2 separate regions of the Homo sapiens genome follow, and region 1 is linked to region 2. Evidence: fine-mapped expression QTL. Tissue or cell type: whole blood. Region 2 holds a variant in brackets; the other region holds the start of a gene. All regions are shown on one strand. Distances are from middle to middle.

What was found. PIP is the estimated chance that this variant, and not a neighbour inherited with it, causes the effect.
Region 1: it holds the start of NTNG2, and the variant in region 2 is fine-mapped to the expression of NTNG2 in whole blood (INTERVAL, PIP 0.95).

Annotation. Positions count from the first base shown.
Region 1 is chr9:132,159,738-132,165,523 of GRCh38, reverse strand. NTNG2 (netrin G2) reads right to left here and starts at 3,466. Exons shown (of 8, transcript NM_032536.4): 1 at 3,285-3,466. LOC124902291 (a long non-coding RNA gene) reads left to right here and starts at 3,824. Exons shown (of 2, transcript XR_007061826.1): 1 at 3,824-3,908; 2 at 4,921-5,066.
Region 2 is chr9:132,101,712-132,108,308 of GRCh38, reverse strand. It overlaps LOC105376302 (a long non-coding RNA gene), which reads right to left and starts at 5,089. Exons shown (of 3, transcript XR_930403.1): 1 at 5,002-5,089; 2 at 4,503-4,596; 3 at 3,727-4,137. The variant C/T (reference allele first, on the strand shown) is at 3,176.

The DNA of each region.
Region 1 (5,786 bases), 58 kb before region 2:
AAATGGCAAATTTAATTTTTTTTAACTGTAAGAAACTAGGGATATTGAAGACTGCCAAAGAGGTAACAATGCTTTGTGAGTTCAGATTTTTCTGATCAAGGCCAGCATTTTGCAAATCATTCTTAGAGGGTAGGTCTATAAATGGGTTACAATTACGATTATTGCTGTGCTATTTTAAGCTTCTGTTAATTATTTAAAATCAAAATAGATATAATTAATATATTATATCAAAATAGATACCAGTTACATGAATGTTACATTGGGAAATAACACGACTGCAGTACTGTGGTGTGTTCCAGACACTGGATACGTCACCCGGAGAATCCAAGTCCAGCCAGCATGGGATTCTGGCCAAAAATATTGGCCAATAGGGCAAAGGTTACTGCAGTAAAAAAGTGCCTGCATGATTAATTATTCTGGTTAATATGTCTTCGATGATTGCATTTGATTTCCCAAACCACCCCAAATGTCCAGTCTGGACCTGGCTCTCCCCTGACATCCTCTTCACCTCCTGTACTTGCAAGGCCCCTGAAGAGTTAACTGTGTTTCCGTGAAACTCCATTCTCCACCCAGACAGAAAAACGCTCCTGCCAAAAATGACAAACCGAAGTGGCGGACACTTGCTGCCCTGAGCGCCCTGAGCACCTCAGGCTCGGAGCAGCCCCCAGCCAGGGCCCCAGGGCTCCAGGCATGGGACTCATTCATCTGAGTTAGGGCGACCCCTGCCCCTCTCTCTGGGTGAAGGACTGCTGATGGAGATGAACGAGAACCCAGCCAGGACCATTTTCCCCGTCTCACCTCTGGCTGTTTAAAGGGGAACCTGTTACAGAGCCTGCCTGGCCTTGAAGGCGCTCCTTGCTAGAAAACTCTAAGACAGAACGTGCCCGGTGTCTATTTTTGCAACCTGAGAAAATGTAGTAAAAATAAAATAGCGCCGCCGGCAAAGGTTTGGATGCCTCTACCCGAGCTCGCGCTGCCCAGAGCACAGCACGTTCCTAATTAATTCTTCCAGCAGTCGACTCCTAACTGTTCACTAACAGGTAGGGATCTCCTGGCTGCTGGGACAACCAGGACGCCGGGCTGCGGCTTGCAAGGAGGGCGCAGCTGCAACCTTCCTTCAGCTGCAGGACCCGCGGCTGCTCGGGGCTTGCAGGGCGCTGGACGCCGCCGGGCGCGGGGAGGCAGCGAGGCCCGGAGGCCGGGAGGCTGGGGCGAGCGGCGCGCGCGGCGCAACTCGCAAATCTATTAATTGCAGTCCTGTTGGTTTAAATGCCACGCATTCCCTGGAAAATAAATAAATTTAAAAAACCCTAACAACAACAAAATCTGCCAGGGGAAAAATGTGTTTACAACTAGTCAATCAATTGGGCGTTGCTGGCATCGCAGGGGGAATTACGAGCTCAGCACACGAATATTGCAGGCGGGTTCTGCCAAAAAGAAAAAAGAGAAGGGGGAAGAGAGGCAGGAGTCCCCGGATAACGAGGAGGAGCGCAGAGAGTGAGGAGTCGGCAGGGAAATTTTCAGAGTAAGAAGCTGCATCCCGGAGGATCGTTTTCTCCGTGGAAAATTTATCTTCACCTGATATTATTAAGAAACTGCAGCTCCCAGAAACAAATAGAATCAATGTGCTTTATTTTCTTTTAAGAGTCCTCAGGAACCAAGGGGGGCTGATAGCCAGGGTATTAAAACTCGAAAATTAGATTTTATCAGGATTTCTGAACTCAGATTTCTCTGTCTTATTGAATTAGCGCCTCCCGAGCTGGCTGGGCTCGCCAGCAGGTTCCTCTTGGAGTTGCCTGCTGCGCCCTCGCCGTGTGGGAAACTTGCCGCGGCGGGCGCGGGGCCCCTGGGGGCACGGGAGGGAGGGCGCTGGGGGCTCCCGGGGCTAGGGGGGATACTCAGCCCACCCCGGGGTTCCCTCTCCCTCCTCGGCAGGGGCGGCAGAGGGGGGTGAAATCTGCTTTCAGGGGAGAGTGGCGGTTGCCGGGAGGGAAAGGGAGCTTGGCCGGCGGGGTCACCTTCCCGTCCTCTGCCCCGGGCGGGGTCCAGCGGGCGCCCCGCGCTCACTGTAGCCTCGGCGGGCCTCTTAATTCCGGCGGCCCGGGTGTCCCCCCGCTCCGGAGCGGGCCCTTTATCCGGCCCCTGGGTCCCCGCCCGCGGGAGCCCTGGAAAGTTGGGCGCGGGAGGCGGGGCGCGAGCAGCAGCTCCCGGGTGGGTCCCGGCGGGCCGCGGGCGGGGTCGAGGCCGGGGCCAGGGTCGAGTCAGTGCTTCGGGCCGGCTGCGAGCCCTGTGCCTAGGACACCGACGACCCGGCAGCCCCGCAGCTGCTTTTCGTCTTCCCAAAGTTGCGTGCAAGCCACGGCAGCAATTAATAATTAAGCCCGTAATAAAGGCCCGGCCGGGACTGAGGCGCCCCCTTTTTCGGCACTGCCTCTCTTAATTAAAAGACACAGAGCAGGGCGCCCAGGAACTGGCTGTATCCTTTGCCCCGGCGCTGCCGCCTGTGGCGACCCGGCCGCCGCCGCCCCCAGCCCAGACGGCCAACTTACTCCGGAGCGGGCGGACCCCGCGAGCCCGCGGTCCTCTCTTCCCGCCTTCCCGCCGCCTCTGCTCCCCCCACCTGCGCGCCGCTCAGTTCCAGGTTCGACTCCACGCCGGCCCCAAACCAGTGCCTGCGCCCCCTCACCTCCCGACCCCCTCCCGGCGCCGGGAGAAGTTTCCAGCCGGACTGGCCGGGAGTTTCTCTGTGCAACTCACAGGCTCCCAGTTTGCAGAGAGATGGGAGGGCACGGGATGGGGGTGGCTCTAAGCGGTGGCGGTGGAATTGGGGTGGGGGAGAGGCGCGGGAGCAGGGTTAGTTTCCTTTTCCGAGACACATCCGAGCATCCTTGCAACATCCCTCCCCGACACACACACACACACACACACACACACACACACACACACACACACACTCTGTCTCTCTCTCACACACACACACACACACACTCTCACACACACGACGGAAAGGACCCGGGGGAAGCTGGCCAGAAAGACAAGCTACCCCTTTAAGATGCTGCTAAGAACGCACCCTCACACACCCCTCTGGGGCGACTCCAGTTCTCAGCTCGTAGCAGCCGCCACCAAACAACTTTTGCATCCGAGCCTTTGCCGGGCCGCTGTAAGTGGCTCCCGGGCCCGGGCAAGCCTGCATGGTCACCGAAGCCCTTTAAAAATGAAACCGGCCTGGCCAAGCTGCAGCCTCTCCCCCCGCCCGCCTCCCGGGCTCTCCCCGCCCGCCTTACCCCGGCTCGGAGCGGCTTCCCGGCGCGGAGACCTGGGAGGGCCGAGGACCGCCACCCTCCGGCGCTGCGCCTCCCCCCTCGGGCTGGCGCTGGGTGGGGGCGCGGGCCGAGGGCTGCGAGCCGCTGCTCCTTCCCCGCGCCGCTCCCGCCGCTGTGGCCGCCGCCGCCGCCGCCGTCAGATCGGGGCCAGGGAGCCCTCCGGCCGCCGGGGGGGCCGCCCGCAGCCGTCCCGGAGACGCGGGCCGGGGGAGGGGGCCGCCCGCGCCGCCCGCATCGCCCGCCCGGGCTGAGCGGGAGGTCGCCGCTAACAAGTGCAAACTTTTTGGCCCCCCTGGGCGGCCCGGGGAGGACCCGCGCTCGGGCGCCGGGCAGCCCCCGGCCCGGGTGGGCTTCGCGGCGTCTCGTCGGGGAGCCGGGGCATCCCCCCGGCGCGGCGCGGGCCAGATGGCGGGCGCTTCACTGCCCCCCTGCACTCCGCTCCAAGTTAATGCCGAGGCTAAATCCTCTTGCCATCACTCACGATCACCATCGGGGCTTTTATCTCTCGGTCTGATCCGGGCTGCGTAACTTCCTCTGTGTGGCTTTAACACACCATCCCACCACGGAGCAACGGTCTTCTTAAAGGTGCAGGAAGGAAATATTGCGCGGCTCGGGGGACGCGCCACGGCCCGGGGAGGGGCGCGGCGAGCAGGGGCGTCCCGGCGGGCCCGTGGCCAGGGTGGCCCCGGCAGCCTCTGGGGGGTCGCTGCCTAAACATCGCCTCCCGGCCCGGGGGCCAGCGGGTCCCTGCGCCCAGAGCGCATCCTCAGCCGGCTCCGGTCAGGCGCAGCCGGGCTGCAGCTTCCTCTTCCAAAACCCGGGGGCCTGCCGGGGTGCCAGCGCCCATGGGTGTGGGGGCTGCCCCATCGGCACGAGGGAGGGGGGCCAAGTGAGTCAGTTCCCCCACCCCCCACAGCCAAGGGCTCAGGGCTGCTCCTCGGTCTCTCTCTGTGAAGTGCTGCCACCCAGAAGGCCCCAAGCAGTGGGTACCGGGGTGGGTGGGTGGATTTGGGGAGATGGGGAGGGGGAGCGATCTGAGCGCACAACCAGAGCCTGAATACCAGCTGACACATCGCCGCCTCCACCCTGATGGGCCCTGCTTTTGACGAAGCCAAGCCAGCTCTGCAGGGAGTGCAGAGTAGTGGGGCAGGAGGGGCCTGGCTGAGGGGTTCTCTGTCTCCCTCCCCTGCAAGCATGGGAGGCAGGTGTGGGAGGGCTCCGGTAGCAGCAGCCCCGGGCAGAGGCCACCGAGTTCACAATATCATATCCGGCAGCCCTGGGCTCTCTGATCCCCAGGAGGTTTCCTGCCAGCCTGCCTCCCAGGGCTTCTGGGAGAGTTTCCACATCTTCCAGAAGCACATGTGGTTTTCGGACACTCCTGGCCTCCTGGGGTGGGCTCACTGCAGCCTTGAGCAGCCAGCACTGTCATTTGGATGCATCAAGAACAAAGGGCCTGAGGACAGACAGAGAGAGAGGCAGAGAGAGAGAGACCAGCCCAAGGTCACAGAGGGTGTTGGGAATGGAGCAAGACATGGCACCTCAGTGCCCCGCCCTGCTGCCACCCTTCACCTCCACCTTAACCCTTCCCTGTTCTCAGCTGCCCTGAAAACTGGAGACGGAGTTATACTGCTGAATAATATTTGGAATCTTGTGACAAAACAGGAAGAGGATGCAGAATTAAAGACTGTCATCTGCTGTAATAATAATAATAATATATTTATTGAACACCTGTTTTATGCCAGACTCCATGCAAACCAGTTTGTGTGCATTATTCACTGAATCTTCGCCAAAGCCCTGTGACTTCACTGCTAGTAGCAAAGCCTCAAGTTAGAGATGTTAAGTAACTTGCCCAAGGTCACATAGCTAAGGATTGTGGCCGGGGAGGCAGGGCTTTTGGGTTTCTGGGTGATGCTCTCTCACTGGCCTGGCTGGCTGGTGAACTTGGAACACGGCCCAGACTGCTTTGGGGCTCAGTTTCCCCATATGTGAGATATGAACGGTAAATCCTTCTTTTTTCAAAGAGGGGTCAAAAAACAGGGCCATTGTGTGCCTCTACCTGCACATGCTCTCAGATGCCTACCACTGGAGATGGGCCTATCTCACCAAGCAGCCCAGGAAGGCAGACATGGGCCCACCCCTGGTTACCTGTTCTATGCAGGAGGAAGCTCCTTGGGAGAAGAGAACAGATCTTGGTGGTTTGATTTTTAAGCATTCAGCCTGCAGGCAGCAGTGAAGGGCAGGGTGTGGGGCTCCTGCACAGGGTGAGTGATGACCAGGGTCAGCCCTCAGCCTGCTGTCACCCCAGGGCATGGTCATCAATCCCTGGGAACCACCCTGCTCCTCCATCATCACTGTGGACTGGATGCTGTCAGGAATGGCCAAAGAGATGGAGGAGCTGCTTCTTACTTGTAGTTCATCTAAACACAGTGGAGGAACCAGGGGTGCCTCCTCCCTAGCACTGCC
Region 2 (6,597 bases):
AGCCAGGGAACTCATACCCCCAAACAATCTCACTCACAAACACAGGACATACCTTGGAAATCAAAAAGATTCATTACATGTCTCCATCCTGTCTTCAAGAGTGTTTCTGAAATGCTATAATACAGAAGATTCCCTCCCACCCAGAGTGAGAAAACACTGAAGTGGTAAAAATTTAAAAGGCCGGGTTGGGCTGGGCATGGTGGCTCATGCCTGTAATCCCAGCACTTTGGGAGGCTGAGGCAGGCGGATCACCTGAGGTCAGGAGTTCGAGACCAGCCTGGCCAACATGGTGAAACCCTGTCTCTACTAAAAATACGAAAATTAGCCAGGCGTGGTGGTGCACACCTGTAATCCCAGCTGCTCAGGAGGTTGAGGTAGGAGAATCGCTTGAACTCGGAAGGCAGAGGTTGCAGTGAGCTGAGACCACACAGCTGCACTCCAGCCTGGGCAACAAGACGGAAACTCTGTCTCAAAAAACAAAATTTAAAAAATTTAAAAAATTAAACGTCCAGGTTGCCTTCAGGGCATGCTGATGTGCCCTATAGTACCCTCGTGTGCTATTCAGGCTGCTTAGAGATTTGAGGGTCAGTGTGCGAGGGGAAGGGGAAATTTGTATTTACAAAATTGGTGGCTGAGGCTGAATGCTCAGTTCCACAGTGGAAGGAAGAGGGGGCCTGTTTTTAGGAAGGAAGTAGCAGCAGTTCTTTTTTTATTTTTCTCCTGAGACAAGGTCTCACTTTGTTGCCCAAGCTGAGTGCAATGGTGTGATCACAGCTCACTGCAGCCTCAACCTCCTGGACTCAAGTGGTCCTCCCACTTCAGGCTCCCAAGTAGCTAGGACTACAGGTGCACACCACCACACCTGGCTAATTTTTAATTTTTTTTTACAGACAGGGTCTCACTATGTTGCCCAGGCTCGTCTTGAGCTCCTGGATGCAAGCAATCCTCCCACTTCAGCCTCCCAAAGTGCTGGGATTACAGGCATGAGCCACCATGCCCAGCCCGCAATTTTAATATAATTGGTCAAACGTCCTTTTTCCCTTCCCTTCTCAGAGGTGCCAGTGCAGAGCTGCTGGCTTCGTGTGGGTCTAAAACCGCTCAGCTCAATTCTGGAGTTCAAAGACACCATTAATTAACTCAGAAATCATTGACACGAGGCTACTCCCAGGTTATGCTAATCTGGTGAAATCTGTAAACCCTATAACCTTACAGGAAGTCAGAGCTGCCACTGGCCCACTCAGCAGCACCTTTGTGCCAGTGAGCAAAAGGTGCTCCTCGCCCCCCCGCCCCCCAACCAGGTAGATGCAGCCCCAAACCATGTTGTTGGAATTGGTGCTGTGGTTCGAATGTGTCCGCTCCAAAATTCAGGTGTTGCTAGTGTGATAGAATTAAGAGAGATGGGGCCTTTAAGAGGTGATTAGGCCATGAGGGGTCCTCCCTTGTGAATGGGATTAAGGCTCTTACTAAAGAGGCTTCACACAGCCTTCAGCTCCCTTGCTCTTCCGCCTTTGCCATGTGAGGACACAGCGTTGCCCCCCACCCTGCCCGGAGGATGCAACAATAAGGTGCCATCTTAAACACAGAGACCAGCCCTCACCAGACAACGGAACCTGCAGGCTCCTAGAACCTCCCAGCCTCCAGAACGTCCAGAGAATGAATTTCTGTTATTTATGAGACACCCAGTCTCAGGTATCATAGTAGCGTTAATCAACTAAGACTTGGTGAATGGACTACAGAGTGGATTTTTGTCACCTGCGCATTTCCACACCCTCAAGGGCACCAATATCGCATGAGAAGCCCCTGTTGCAAGTGGGCCTGTGGCATTCCACCTTTTAAAAAGGTAAAGGGACCCTGAATAAATACATAAGTCATTTAAGGCTTGACAAACAGCTCTTGGAACAAGGGCATGAAAACAGGTGATTCTCAGGGTGATGTGTGGGGTTGAAGAGAGACCCACGGAATCAAGAAAGAAAGAGCCAGGCCAGGCTTGGTGGCTCATGCCTGTAACCCCAGCACTTTGGGAAACTGAGGCAGGCAGCTCACCTGAGAAAGGGAGTTCAAGACCACCCTGGTCAACATGGTGAAAACTAAAAAAAAAAAAAAATTAGCCAGGAGTGGTAGTGGGCACCTGTAATCCCAGCTACACAGGAGGCTCAGGCTGGAGAATAGCTTGAACCTGGGAGGTGGAGGTTGTAGGGAGCCGAGATTGCACCACTGCACTCTCAAGCCTGGGCGACAGAATGAGACTGCATCTCAAAAAAAAAAAAAAAAAAAAAAAGTAAGAACTAGAAGAATCGAGTCAGCTAAGGTCCTATTTTCCAAGGCTCTTCCCCATGTCTAAGAAAATTAATGAAAGACACACCTTTTTGCAAAAACCATAAACTATATGACTTGTGCATGACAAAAAGATGGAGTCCATCCTGCAAATATTTCAGAACTTCCTAGCTAGGTGGGGGTTTGGGGAGCAAAGAAGCTCACAGATGTGTGTTCTTGCCAAGCATATTGCACACAGGTGCTAGGGATGGCCAAGCCCTCAGGGGCTTGAGATACTTGGCCAGTGTTTCCCAAAATGTGTTCCATGGAACTATAATCCCATCCATTGCTTCTTAAAAACAGGTGCAACTGTCAAAAGATATAAACTTCTTTGGGATGTTTACAATGAACATTATTGAGCATTCTTGCCCATTTCCTTTGTTTAATTCAGCATTTTCCAAACATTTGACCCCAGACACACCCTGTCCCCACACCTGCTCTTTAACATGTTACCATCCACCAATGCTAGTTAGTTCCCTACGATGTGGATTTTGATTCTGTGGAGAATCTGGGGAATAAGCTTATTCCTTCTTGGGTTCAAATTAGAGACGTCCGCTGTTCACGGAGCTCCACACTGAATTTCCTTCTCCCTTTGAGAACGTTCATCACTTAAAGTCTACTCTTTCAGTGTTTTGATAGCACATCTCACATGTTTTTTTCCCTTGAAAGCCCAGTACAATTTGATGGTGACCGTCCTTTTTTTTTTTTTTTTTTTGAAACGGAGTCTCGCTCAGTCGCCCAGGCTGAAGTGCAATGGTGCGATCTCAGCTCACTGCAACCTCCGCCTCCCGGGTTCAAGTGATTCTACCGCCTCAGCCTCCTGAGTAGCTGGGATTACAGGCGCCCACCACCACGCCTGGCT[C/T]GTTTTTGTGTTTTTGTAGAGATGGGGTTTCACCATATTGGCCAGGCTGGTCCTCAACTCCTGACCTCAGGTGATCCTCCCACCTCGGCCTCCCAAAGTGCTGGGATTACAGGTGTGAGCCACTGCGCCCGGCCATATTTTAAAAGAGGATAGAGGACGCCATCTAGGGTCACCTGCCATTCTCTTGTTCTCAGGCTAGGAGTGACCCATGTTCTTTGAACTCTTCACCACTTTTCTTTGTGACTGTACTGAGCTCCAGGGTGTCAGAGCTGCAGAGCCTGAGTTCTGCCTGGGGTCTTGCTCAAATCCCTCCTACCTCTAGGAACCCAGAAGCCCCACCCAAAGTGACCCTACATGACTTGGGGTGGGGTGTGCCAGGAGTCAGCCCTCTCAGGAGCCACATACCCATTGTTGATGGGAGGCGACATTTTCTTTTGTTCCCCAACCCCCCTGCCAGGAGCCATGCCCCTCTCTTGAGATTTTCTCTGAGTTGGAGACTGAAGCAGAGAGTTGAGGACCTCAGAGGACAGAGGGTGTCTCTGGCTGCCGGAGCAAGCTGAGCCATATTAACATTCCCATTGGGTGTCAGGAGGGTGGGATCCACTCAGGTCCATGTTGCAAGGAAGTTTCTCCATCACCCCCTGCCCCATCTCCCTTCAAGGCTGGAGTGCAGTGACTATTCACAGGCATGATTGTAATGTACTATGTAGCCATGAAGTCCTCCTCTCCACCTCTCCCACCCAGCTCCATCCCAAGAAGCTTCGTCTCTCCCAAGCTGACCCCTTCACCAGGGCCACCAGGCCTGCTGGGAGGACTCTGGCACTGACAGGTGCCTGCCGCTCACAGGGCCTGTCTGCCACCGCACTGTGATGGCTGGGGAGGGTGAGGGTAGAGGGCAGAGGACTTCTTGCCTCACAGGTGCTCCCACAGGTTCGATGTCCTTTGCTGAGGTCATCTCCCTCCTGTGATTTAATGAGGCTGAAGTCAGAGAAAACCCAAAGATGCCAGAGGGGCCGCCTCCTCCCAAAACCCGCCAATGCCTCCTTTTTCAGAGAGGATTTTCTTCCCTTCTCTCCTCCCTTTAAAAAAAAAAAAAAAAAAAAAAAATATATATATATACATATATATATACACATATATATACACACACTATATATACACACACTATATATACACACATATATATACATATGTGTGTATATGTGTGTATATATATGTGTGTGTATGTATATATATATATATATATAGATATATAAAGAAATGCATGTACATAGTTTAAAAAATCAAGTAGCCCTATAAGGTTTATTCTAAAAATAGCCCTACTCACTGGTGCTGATCCCTTGTCCCAGAGGCAGCCACCTTCAACTCTTTTAGCTTTATCTTGATGTTTCAGCTTTAAGCATCATATAATCGACTACCTGCTATAGAAAATGAGGATTTAGTTCTTAGGCACAGGCACACACACGTTTATCTTATCTCACCACCCCAAGATCACAGGTTCTAGTTAAACCAATATTCAGTGTTTACTGTCCTATGACTTGGGAAAATATTATATGCCACTGACTACCCAATGCACTGTGATTGCGTTTTTTGGTACAATTTCATTTTTCTCAGAGTTAGTAATTTTGATGGGTTTTTATATTTTCAATGTAGTTGCTAATTTATCTCTGTCACAACTCTAAAGCTTTTGTTAATATAATTAAAACTTCAGAACCTATTAGTTCTGTGTCTTGCTTTAAGCCCTCTATCCTGGGCTGCAATCAGCCTGGTTGCTGTGCTGGGCCCTGTGCACACCTGTGGTCTGGGTCCTCTGTAATAACATTTACCTCTCTCTTCTGTTGCATCCCCTGTTTCCTGGATTCTCTGTTTTCCACTTTCTTGGTTTACTCTCTCATTTTGATGGAGCACGTCCTCTAGTAGCTTCTTGAGAAAAGATGCATGGAAGGAAAATTCAGTGAGACCAGGCATGTCTGAAACATACTTAGTCCACACTTACACTTGATTGATAAAATTATCAGCTGGAGGCTGAGTGCAGTGGCTCACACCTGTAATCCCAGCACTTTGAGAGGCTGAGGTGGGAGGATAACTTGAGTCCAGGAGTTCAAGACCAGCCTGGGCAACATAGTGAGACCCTATCTCTAAAAGAAAAAAAATTATCAGCTGGACATGGTGGTGCATACTTTTAGTCCCAGCTACTTGAGAGGCTATGGTGGAAGGATAACTTGAGGCCAGAAGTTCAAGCCTGACTAGTGCACTACAGTCGTGCCTGTGAAGAGTCACTGCATTCCAGCCTTGGTAACATAGCAAGGCCCTCTTTCTAAAAATAAAATAAGATTATCAATAAGTTCTAGGTTGGAAATATTTTTCCGCAAGATTATGAAGGCCTGTGCCTTCTTCCAATTTCCAGTGATGATGTTAGAAAGTCCAATGCCTGTGGGCAGATCACCTGAGGTCAGGAGTTCAAGACCAGCCTGGCCAACAAGGCAAAACCCCGTCTCTATTAAAAATATAAAAATTAGCCGGGCACGGTGGCGCATGCCTGTAGTCCTAGCTACTTGGGAAGCTGAGACAGGAGAATTGCTTGAACTTGGGAGGCGGAGGTTGCAGTGAGCCGAGATTGTACCACTGTACCCCAGCCTGGGCGACAGAGCGAGACTCCGTCTCAAAAAAAAAAAAAAAAAAGTCCAGTGCCTGATCCTTGATCTTTTGTGTATGACATTCTGTCTTTGGAAGCTTTTGACATGATTTTACACTGGCACTCTGAAGGCTCTTTAAATCTGGAAATGTTTGCCCTAAAGTTTTGGGAAATTGTCATGTATTATTTTTCTTTGATAACTTCTGCCCCTCTATTTTCTCTCTCTCTATCTCTTTTTTTTTTTTTGACCTGGAATTCCTCATTTTGGATATTGAACTTCCTGGACTGTTGTAGAGAGAATAATGCCCCTCTACAGATTTCCACATCCTAATCCCCAGAACCTGTGAATATGTTACCTGACAGGTGAAAGGAACTTGGTAGAGGTGACTACATTAAGGATCTTAAGATGAGGAGATTAAGTTGGGTTTAATCAAACAGCAAGGATTTTTTTTTTTTGAGACAAAGTCTTGCTCTGTCAACCAAGCAGGAGTGCAGTAGTGCAATCATAGCTCACTGCAGCCTCAGACTCCAGAGTAGTTGGGGTCACCAGTGCCACCACACCAGGCTAATTTTTAATTTTTTACAGAGGCGGGGTCTTGTCATGTTGCCCAGGCTTCTCTTGAACTCCTGGCATCATGTGATCCTACTACTTCAGCCTCCAAAGTGCTGGGATTACAGGTGTTGGCCACTGTTCCTGGCCGCAAGGATTCTTATAAGAGGAAATCAGGAGGGTCAAAGTCAGAAAAAGGAGATATGACCATGAAAGCAGATGTTGGAGTGATGTGCT